Regions from separate parts of the Homo sapiens genome. Here regions 1 and 2 are each linked to region 3. The links come from fine-mapping of genetic effects on gene expression. Tissue or cell type: whole blood. Region 3 holds a variant in brackets; each other region holds the start of a gene. Each region is shown on its reference strand, or each on the opposite one. Region 1 holds the start of ACADVL (acyl-CoA dehydrogenase very long chain). Region 2 holds the start of CREB3L3 (cAMP responsive element binding protein 3 like 3). Region 3 overlaps PPARA (peroxisome proliferator activated receptor alpha).

The links.
Region 1: it holds the start of ACADVL, and the variant in region 3 is fine-mapped to the expression of ACADVL in whole blood (TOPMed, PIP 0.94).
Region 2: CREB3L3 starts here. The variant in region 3 is fine-mapped to the expression of CREB3L3 in whole blood (TOPMed, PIP 0.99).

What each region holds. Positions count from the first base shown.
Region 1 is chr17:7,218,423-7,220,922 of GRCh38, reverse strand. ACADVL (acyl-CoA dehydrogenase very long chain) reads right to left here and starts at 985. Exons shown (of 20, transcript NM_000018.4): 1 at 877-985; 2 at 726-801; 3 at 394-459; 4 at 247-319; 5 at 93-157. The coding sequence starts at 938. It also overlaps a transcript of DLG4 not described here. RefSeq lists an enhancer at 86-693 and a silencer at 652-861.
Region 2 is chr19:4,152,202-4,155,041 of GRCh38, reverse strand. It overlaps CREB3L3 (cAMP responsive element binding protein 3 like 3), which reads right to left and starts at 1,411. Exons shown (of 10, transcript NM_032607.3): 1 at 1,268-1,411; 2 at 15-143. The coding sequence starts at 1,294.
Region 3 is chr22:46,218,236-46,221,075 of GRCh38, reverse strand. PPARA (peroxisome proliferator activated receptor alpha) reads right to left here. Exons shown (of 9, transcript NM_005036.6): 6 at 2,675-2,813; 7 at 1,062-1,264. Among named protein-coding and RNA genes, the nearest start is that of CDPF1, 31 kb to the left of the region's middle. The variant C/T (reference allele first, on the strand shown) is at 1,597.

The sequences.
Region 1 (2,500 bases), not on the chromosome of region 3:
TGGGGAAGGCACAGGATCCCACATCCAGGCTCCTTTTGAGCTTAACATCTCCAAACACCTCACCAGGGACCAAGCCCCGAGTCATTCCTTACCTCGAAGAAACGGGACACAGGCTCCACCAGCTCTTTAAGAAACTGTGTCTGCTCTTCGTTGAGCACTGCAGAGGGTGGGGGACAGGCTGGTCAGGCCAGGCTGGCAGGGGAAACCACCCTGGCCCCACCCAGCTCTGATTATCCCTTCCCTTACCGGACGGGTATGGGAACACCTGATCTGTGGTGAGCTGGCCTTTGAACATTCCCACAGCAAAGGACTTAGATTCCTGGGCAGAGAGAGGCAAATTTCAGGGCTCTGGTTGGGTCTGGCTAAGGTCCACCTGGCCTCGGGGCTACCTACCGCCTTGGCCGGTTTTTTCCTGGTCAGAGCGTCAGAGGGGTGGGAATCTGACTTGTCCAGAGCCAGCTGGGAAAAGAGACGGTTAGCAAGTTCAGGGAAGGGACTTCCGCTGTGTCAAGGGGAGAACAGGCGAGAGCCGCGCGGGGAGGCGGCGCGAAGCGGTGACCTTTCCCCTAGTTTCGCCCTAGGGCACCCTGGCTTGCCCTTTCCCCTACTTTCGGCGACTGAGCAGTAGGCAGGTACCTGGCACCAAGAGGGAGATCCCTGCCGATGGCGGGCGCCGAAGCGGACCGCCGCTCCCACACCCCCTTGCCAAGGCTGCGGTGACTTACCTGAGCGGCACCCCCGGCATAGGGCCGCCGGGCAGGGCCGGGCCGGGGCTGCCCCAGGAGCGCCGTGAGCCGCGAGCTGTGGGGAGTGGGGGTTCAGTGCCGGCCCGGTGCCCAGGGCCGCTGCCCACCGTCCCTCTTGTCACACACAGACCTTCCGCCCCCGAGCCTCAGCAGCTGCCGCCCCAAGCTCGCGGCCATCCGAGCCGCCTGCATCTCCGAATCTCTCCGGGCGCCGCTGGCTCGAGCTCTGACCCAGCTCTGGCGTCCTGCACGCCCACGTCCTGGCGCCCCTAACCCTGACTCATCGTCCACAGTGCACCGGGCGGCGGACGGTTGCGGGCCCCGGGGCATGCTGGGAGCTGTAGTTCCCTGGAGCCCGGCCCTGCGTTCCGCTGACTTAGAGGGATCTCCAAGCGTCCCTCGTCTCCCCCAAACTCCTTAATCCCGCCCGTCCGACCTAGAGTCTAGTCCTCCGACGGGGTGATGGGATAGGATGGGACAGAAGAGGAAGGGGCTTAAGTCACTGCAGCCAGAGGGATGGAGGTGGACTGAAGGGAGGGCTTCTCCGGTGGGGTTAGAAGGGAAAAGTAGGGAAAGAGAAGTGTAAGGTAGATGGCAGAGGCAGAGACATGGAAAGACAGACTCTAGGGTTCCTGATGAAATCTATCTCGGCCAACACAAAAGGGAGGGTACAGTGGTGGGGGGCACCCAAGCTAGGGTGTGAGTACCCTAAGTGTATTCTTCTGAGATGTAGGCCATTCACTAACTCTTGGAACAGCTACAGTTTCACAGTAGGAAGACCCCCCCAGATTCACTGCCCCTCCCTTAGTAAAGCCTCTGAGACCTTCCTGAACATTCCCTTCTGTCTTTGCCCTCTGTTCCTTCCAGAGACCATGTGCCCAGGCAGATGGATTCCTCCCGGGCCTGAGAGGAACTGCAGGAATTCTCCTGCCTCTTACCCGTAAAACCCCAACTTCTCTAGCCCTAGGGCAGGAAGTCCCAAACAATTTCTACCCCTTTTTCTGCAATTCTCATTGGGGTGAGAGGAGGCCCAGGAGGAGAGAGAGCTGGGCTCAGCTTCTTTTTGAGCTGCTGGAGCCCTCTGTGAGGAGGCCCTCTTTGCTGGCTTCTCAGGAGAGCGTGGCTAGGTTCTGCCTGCCTATGGGAAGAGGGGGCCAGGGTGTGTGGAGCAAGATGGTGGCGGTGCTGGTGCCTTGGGACCTGGGGGAATGGGACAGCTGGTCGGCTCAGAGACGGCCTACTTTACTCACAGCTGGAATTTAGTGGGGAGAAGCAGCTCAACTCCAATCCTGGAGGATTAGGGAGATTAAAGTGAGAGAAGAGAGAGATGTCCCAGAGACCAAGAGGTGAAAAACAGGGCTCCTTGTGGAGGGGAGGTCTGGGAGCGAAGTGGGGGGCTGGGGCTCGGAGATCCTTCTCCCCAAATCTTTCCGTAGGGGCTGGGGTGAAGGGCACAGTCTGGGGAGATGAAGTGACAGTGTGTTCATCTTCCTGTGTTGGCATCTTCCCTGTCCCAATTCTCCTTGCATCTCACTAGCTCCCAGGTCAGCCCTCTGGCTCCTGGCACCCCCACTGCTGCGGTGGGCACCCCCACTCCTCACAGTGCTGCATAGCGACCTCTTCCAGGCCTTGCTGGGTGAGTAGCCCGTTTTCTGAGGGACCTGGGCCTCCAAGGGCCATTACTGAACTTCGGGGGCTGTTTGGGAGCCCAGAGATCATTTGGTCCAAGCTGGAGCACCATGCAGGGTCCTGCC
Region 2 (2,840 bases), not on the chromosome of region 3:
AGTGGACTCCTCACCTGGTCCTTGACGTGACCCCAGCCCTCGCCCAGCTCCACGTGTCTCAGGATGCCGTCCTGCCGGTCAAACAGGAGATCCAGGAGCTCAAAGCTGTCGATGGGGTCCATGGAGCAGGCAGCAGAAGCCATCTGGGGCGCGAGGAACAGATGTGAGGGTCACATACAGCCCCTGTCCTCCCCACCTCCCATGTGCACATAACCCTGGCTCTTTCCGGCTAGAGTTCAGTTGCCGCTCTGCCTCCGGGTTGGGCCAGCTGCTGCCCCTCGCTGAGACTCCCTTTCCAAATCTGGACTTTGAGGCTGATAGAGAGAATTCCACAGTGTGAGAGCCAATTTCTCTTAAAGTGCTGGAGAGGCTGGATGTGGTGGCTCATGCCTGTAATCTCAGCACTTTGGGAGGCCGGGGCAGGAGGATCACTTGAGCCCAGGAGTTCAAGACCAGCCTGCGCAACATAGAGACCCCTATCCCTACTGCAAATAATTTAAAAAAATTAGCTGGCTGCGGTGGCACACACTTGTCGTCCCAGCTACTGGGGAGGCTGAGGTAGGAGGATCCCTTGAACCCAGGAGGTTGAGGCTGCAGTGAGCTATGGCCACCCCACTGCACTCCACCCTGGGTCACAGAGCAAGACCTTGTTTCAAAAAACAAAAAAGTATGGCAGGCACGGTGGCTCACATCTGTAATCCCAGCACTCTGGGAAGCCGAGGCGGGCAGCTCACCTGAAGTCAGGAGTTTGAGACCAGCCTAGCCAACATGGTGAAACCCTGTCTCTAGGAAAAGTACAAAAATTAGCCGGGCGTGGTGGTGCACACCTGTAATCCCAACTACTTGGGAGGCTGAGGCAGGAAGATCTCTTGAACCCAGGAGGTGGAAGTTGCAGTGAGCTGAGATCGTGCCATTGCACTCTAGCCTGGGTGACAGAGGGAGACTCCATCTCAAAAAATAAAAATAAAAATAAAATAAAATAAAATAAAAAGTGCTGGAGAGAGGCCCTAGCTAGAGATGCCGCTTGCCTCTCAGGCCTTCACAGCCTCCCCAAGTGCCCGCTCCTAGGAGGCAGGGGGACCTGGAAGAAAGACAAGGGCAGCCCCGGGGCAAAGGCACACAGTTTTGCTCATTGCATCCTTTCTCTGGGCCTCAGTCTTCCCATCTGTACAATAGGGGTGGAGATGGGGTCCTTCCAGCTCTGGCAGCTTGGGTAGGCTTTCCCAGCCTAGACTCCCGCTCTCCCTGGGGACCTAGTAGGGCTCACCTTTCCAGCAGCTAAATCCGTATTCATGGGTCCATCCAGTTCTGTCTGCAGATGCCTCGGGGGGTCTCTGCTCCAAGCTGGAGGCCCACCCACCGCCAGCGTTACCTGGGGCCGGGCAAGCTCACAGCCCTCTGTGGCTCTGTCACCACTCCCAAAAGATGCTGAAGCGGTCACAGGCAGCTCCCAGCCCACCTCCAGGTGCTGATTGGTGGACAGGGTGGAGAGACAGGGTTGAGGGCCAGTGACACTGGGGCAGGCAGGAGCAGGGGAGGGAAGACCGTTATCTGGGTGTTTTGTGGTTTTCCAGCCCTCAGTGAGCAAAGGTCGAAGTCTGGGGTACCTCCACTCTGCCGTGACCTCTGCCCTACTTATGAGGACTTTTTCTTTTTTTCTTTCTTTTTTGAGACGGAGTCTCGCTCTGTGGCCCAAGCTGGAGTGCAGTGGTGCCATCTCATTTCGGCTCACTGCAACCTCTGCCTCTTGGGTTCAAGTGATTCTCCTGCCTCAGCCTCCCGAGTAGCTGGGACTACAGGTCCCCATCACCATGCCCGGCTAACTTTTGTATTTTTAGTAGAGACGAGGTTTCATCATGTTTTCCAGGCTGGTCTCGAACTCCTGACCTCGTGATCGGCCCCTCAGTCTCCCAAAGTGCGGGGATTACAGGCGTGAGCCACCGCACCCGGCCAGTTACAGGACTTTTTCTCTTCAGAATTCCCAGATGGGTTCTGGGATAGCCCAGGGCCCTTACATGGGTCCTGTCCACTCCCTGGACAGAAACAAACCAAGAGGACCAGACCAGATCTTCACTGAAGCCAGTTTTCCTGCCAGCAGCTAGCGGCTCCCATCCTTCACCCCACCTGCCAACCTCCGGCCCCCAGCCCCCTCCGAAACCAGCTTGGACTCCGCCTCTGAGTCCCCATGGGTGATTCTGTGCAATCAATTCTCTCTAGAATCTTCTATCGTTCATTGAGTCAACAAATATTTATGGAGCCAAACTGGTTCCTGCTTAGGGCCTTTGCACCTACTCACCTGCTCGCCCCTCTGCCTGGAACTCTCCTCTTGTACCCTCCCTCTTCCCCTCTGGCTCTAGGTCACTGTATTGACATTTTAGTGAATGTTCGATATTTGTGAATCAGCCCGGGTGGCTGAGAGGTGTCTCTGACCTCCCCTCCACCCCCTACCAAGAGAGAGGAGCCCTGTTTTGTTTTTTTGTTTTTTTTTTTGGTGTTGGTGGAGGACAGGGTCTCACTCTATTGCCCAGGCTGGAGTGCAGTGGCAGGATCATAGCTCACTGCAGCCTCCAACTCCTGGGTTCAAGTGATCCTCCCGTCTCAGCCTCCCAAGTAGCTAGGACTGCAGGCGTGCACCACCACACCTGGCTAATTTTGTTTTTTTTTTTTTATAGAGATGGGGTCTTACTGTGTTGGCCAGTATGGTCTCAAACTCCTGGGCTCAAATGATCCACCTGCTTCAGCCTCCCAAAGTGCTGGATTTACAGGCATGAGCCACTGTGCCCAGGCAAAGTCCCCCTTTAGCAGATGACATATTAGACCAAGCGTGGTGGCTCACATCT
Region 3 (2,840 bases):
TCCTGTACAGCCTTGTGGGCCACGAGCCAATTAAACCTCTTTTCTTTATAAATTACCAGGTCTCAGGGATTTCTTTATAGCAGACTAATACACCTCAAAGTAGGGATTTATTTTATTATTCTATTTTTTTTTTGAGATAGGGTCTCGATCTGTCACCCAGGCTGGAGTGCAGTGGCATGATCTCAGCTTGCTGTAACCTCTGCCTCCCGGGTTGAAGCAATTCTCATGCCTAAGCCACCCAAGTAGCTGGAATTACAGGTGTGTGCCACCCTGCTCAGCTAATTTTTGTATCTTTAGTAGAGTTGGGGTTTCTCCATGTTGGCCAGGCTGGTATCAAACTCCTGGACTCAAGCAATCTGCCCACCTTGGCCTCCCCAGAGTGCCAGGATTACAGGCATGACCCATCTTGCCTGGTCAGTTTTTTTTTTTTTAAATCCAGTTAATGCTGGGTGCCATGACTCACACCTGTAATGCCAGTGCTTTGGGAGGCCGAGGTGGGAAGATCACTTGAGGCCAGGAGTTTGAGACCAGCCTGGGAAACATCTCATCTCTACCAAAAAACAAAAACAAAACAAAACAACAACAACATCAAACATAGCCAGGTGTGGTGGTGCACACCTGTAGTCCCAGCTCCTTGGGAGGCTGAGGCAGGAGGATTGCTTGAGCCCAGGAGTTCAAGGCTGCAGTGAACTATGATTGCACCACTGCATTCCAGCCTGGGCAACAGAGCAAGAACCTATCTCTATTTAAGAAAAAATGCTCCTAAGAAATCATCTTAGTACTTGGTAAGCTATTAAGGTTTTTTTTAAGTGTATTAATTACATAGCCAGTATAATAACTTAGTTGCTAAGAGCTTTGAGGTGGCTCCAAGCAAGAAGAAAGGAGTTGTTGTTAAGCTACAGCTCAGAGTCTCAGAATGAACTGTTTCCATCTTCGCTGTCCTTTGCTTAACTGTGGGATAAATATAATTTTCTCAACATTCAACACATGTGTCCTTAATCGTCCTCTACGACACTGGTTCCATGTTGCCAAGAGAACCCAGAACAGCCGCAAACACCTACTGGATTGTTACTGGCCTTTCCTGAGAGGATGACCCGGGCTTTGACCTTGTTCATGTTGAAGTTCTTCAAGTAGGCCTCGTAGATTCTCTTGGCCAGAGATTTGAGATCTGCAGTTTCAGAATCTTCTATGTCATGTTCACAGGTAAGAATTTCTGCTTTCAGTTTTGCTTTCTCAGATCTTGGCATTCGTCCAAAACGAATCGCTAGGGTTTGGAGGGGGAAACACAGGCATGAGCAGTGAGGTCATGACTGCGCGGACAGGGCTGGACGAGGGGCTCCCCCAGGACTTTAAACCAGGAATGAAAATTCACAGGCAGTTCAGACCCATCCTTCATTACTATTCGGCTTTCCACTATGGAGAGATGAAAAACTCAAACTCCATACACTGTAGATGTTTAAACAGGTGCAGGCTGAAGGTGACACCATCGTTAACAGGTGCAGGCTGAAGGTGACACCATCGTTCGTCTCATTAGTAGGGTGCACACCACTATCAGGTGCATCATCAACCTTTGAGTGAAGGAGGTGAACGGGGCTT[C/T]GGGATGAGTTTATATAATAACTGCTTCTTTTTCCAGAAGGTAGACATGCAACTCTTATGAACGACTTACATTCACATCACAATTAGCATGTTCTGAAACTATTAAATGATTGGCTAGAAGGAAATTCATAACGTGGTGAGATGTTTGAGGTGGTACACCCTTCCTATGGACGAGGTGAACATTCTGTCATTTTGGTGCCTTCCACTTGGTTTTTCGATTCTGTATCAAAGTCTTACCACTGAAGTTTCTAACAGCGAGTCCAATGCACCACTGAATCTCAGCTATTTGAGACTTTTTCTTTTTTTTTCTTTTTTTTTGAGACGGAGTCGCACTCTGTCGCCCAGGCTGGAGTGCAGTGGTGCGATCTCAGCTCACTGCAACCTCCGCCTCCCGGGTTCAAGCTATTCTCCTGTCTCATCCTCCCAAGTAGCTGGGATTACAGGTGTGCACTACCATGCCCAGCTAATTTTTGTATTTTTATTAGAGACGGGGTTTTGCCATGTTCGCCAGGCTGGTCTCAAACTCCTGACCTCAAGTGATCCACCCGCCTCGGCCTCCAAAGTGCTGGGATTACAGGTGTGAACCACCGCACCTGGGAGACTTTTATTTTCTTTCTTTCTTTCTTTTTCTTTTTTTTTTTTTTGTGAGACGGAATCTCCCTCTGTCGCCCAGGCTGGAGTGCAGTGGCGCAATCTCAGCTCACTGCAACCTCCGCCTCCCGGGTTCAAGCGATTCTTCTGCCTCAGCCTCCCGAGTAGCTGGGACTACAGGCATGTGCCACCACACCCAGCTAATTTTTGCATTCTTAGTAGAGACGGGGTTTCACCATATTGGCCAGGCTGGTCTCAAACTCCTGACCTGAGGTGATCCACCCACCTCAGCCTCCCAAAGTGCTGGGATTACAGGCGTGAACCACCGCGCCTGGGCGACTTTTATTTTCTTAGGCCACTCTGATTACAAAATGACTTGGGTGTGAAATGTTGAAGCACATTCATCCATAGCTTGATCTGTTCCCTTGGAGCAAGGAAGGGGAACTGAGGAACGAACTGGGAAAATGTGCAGGGCCACCTTACCTACCGTTGTGTGACATCCCGACAGAAAGGCACTTGTGAAATCGACAATACTGGCATTTGTTTCTGTTCTTTTTCTGGATCTTGCAGCTGCGGTCGCACTTGTCATACACCAGCTTGAGTCGAATCGTTCGCCGAAAGAAGCCCTGTGAGGGTAATACACAGTGGATTTA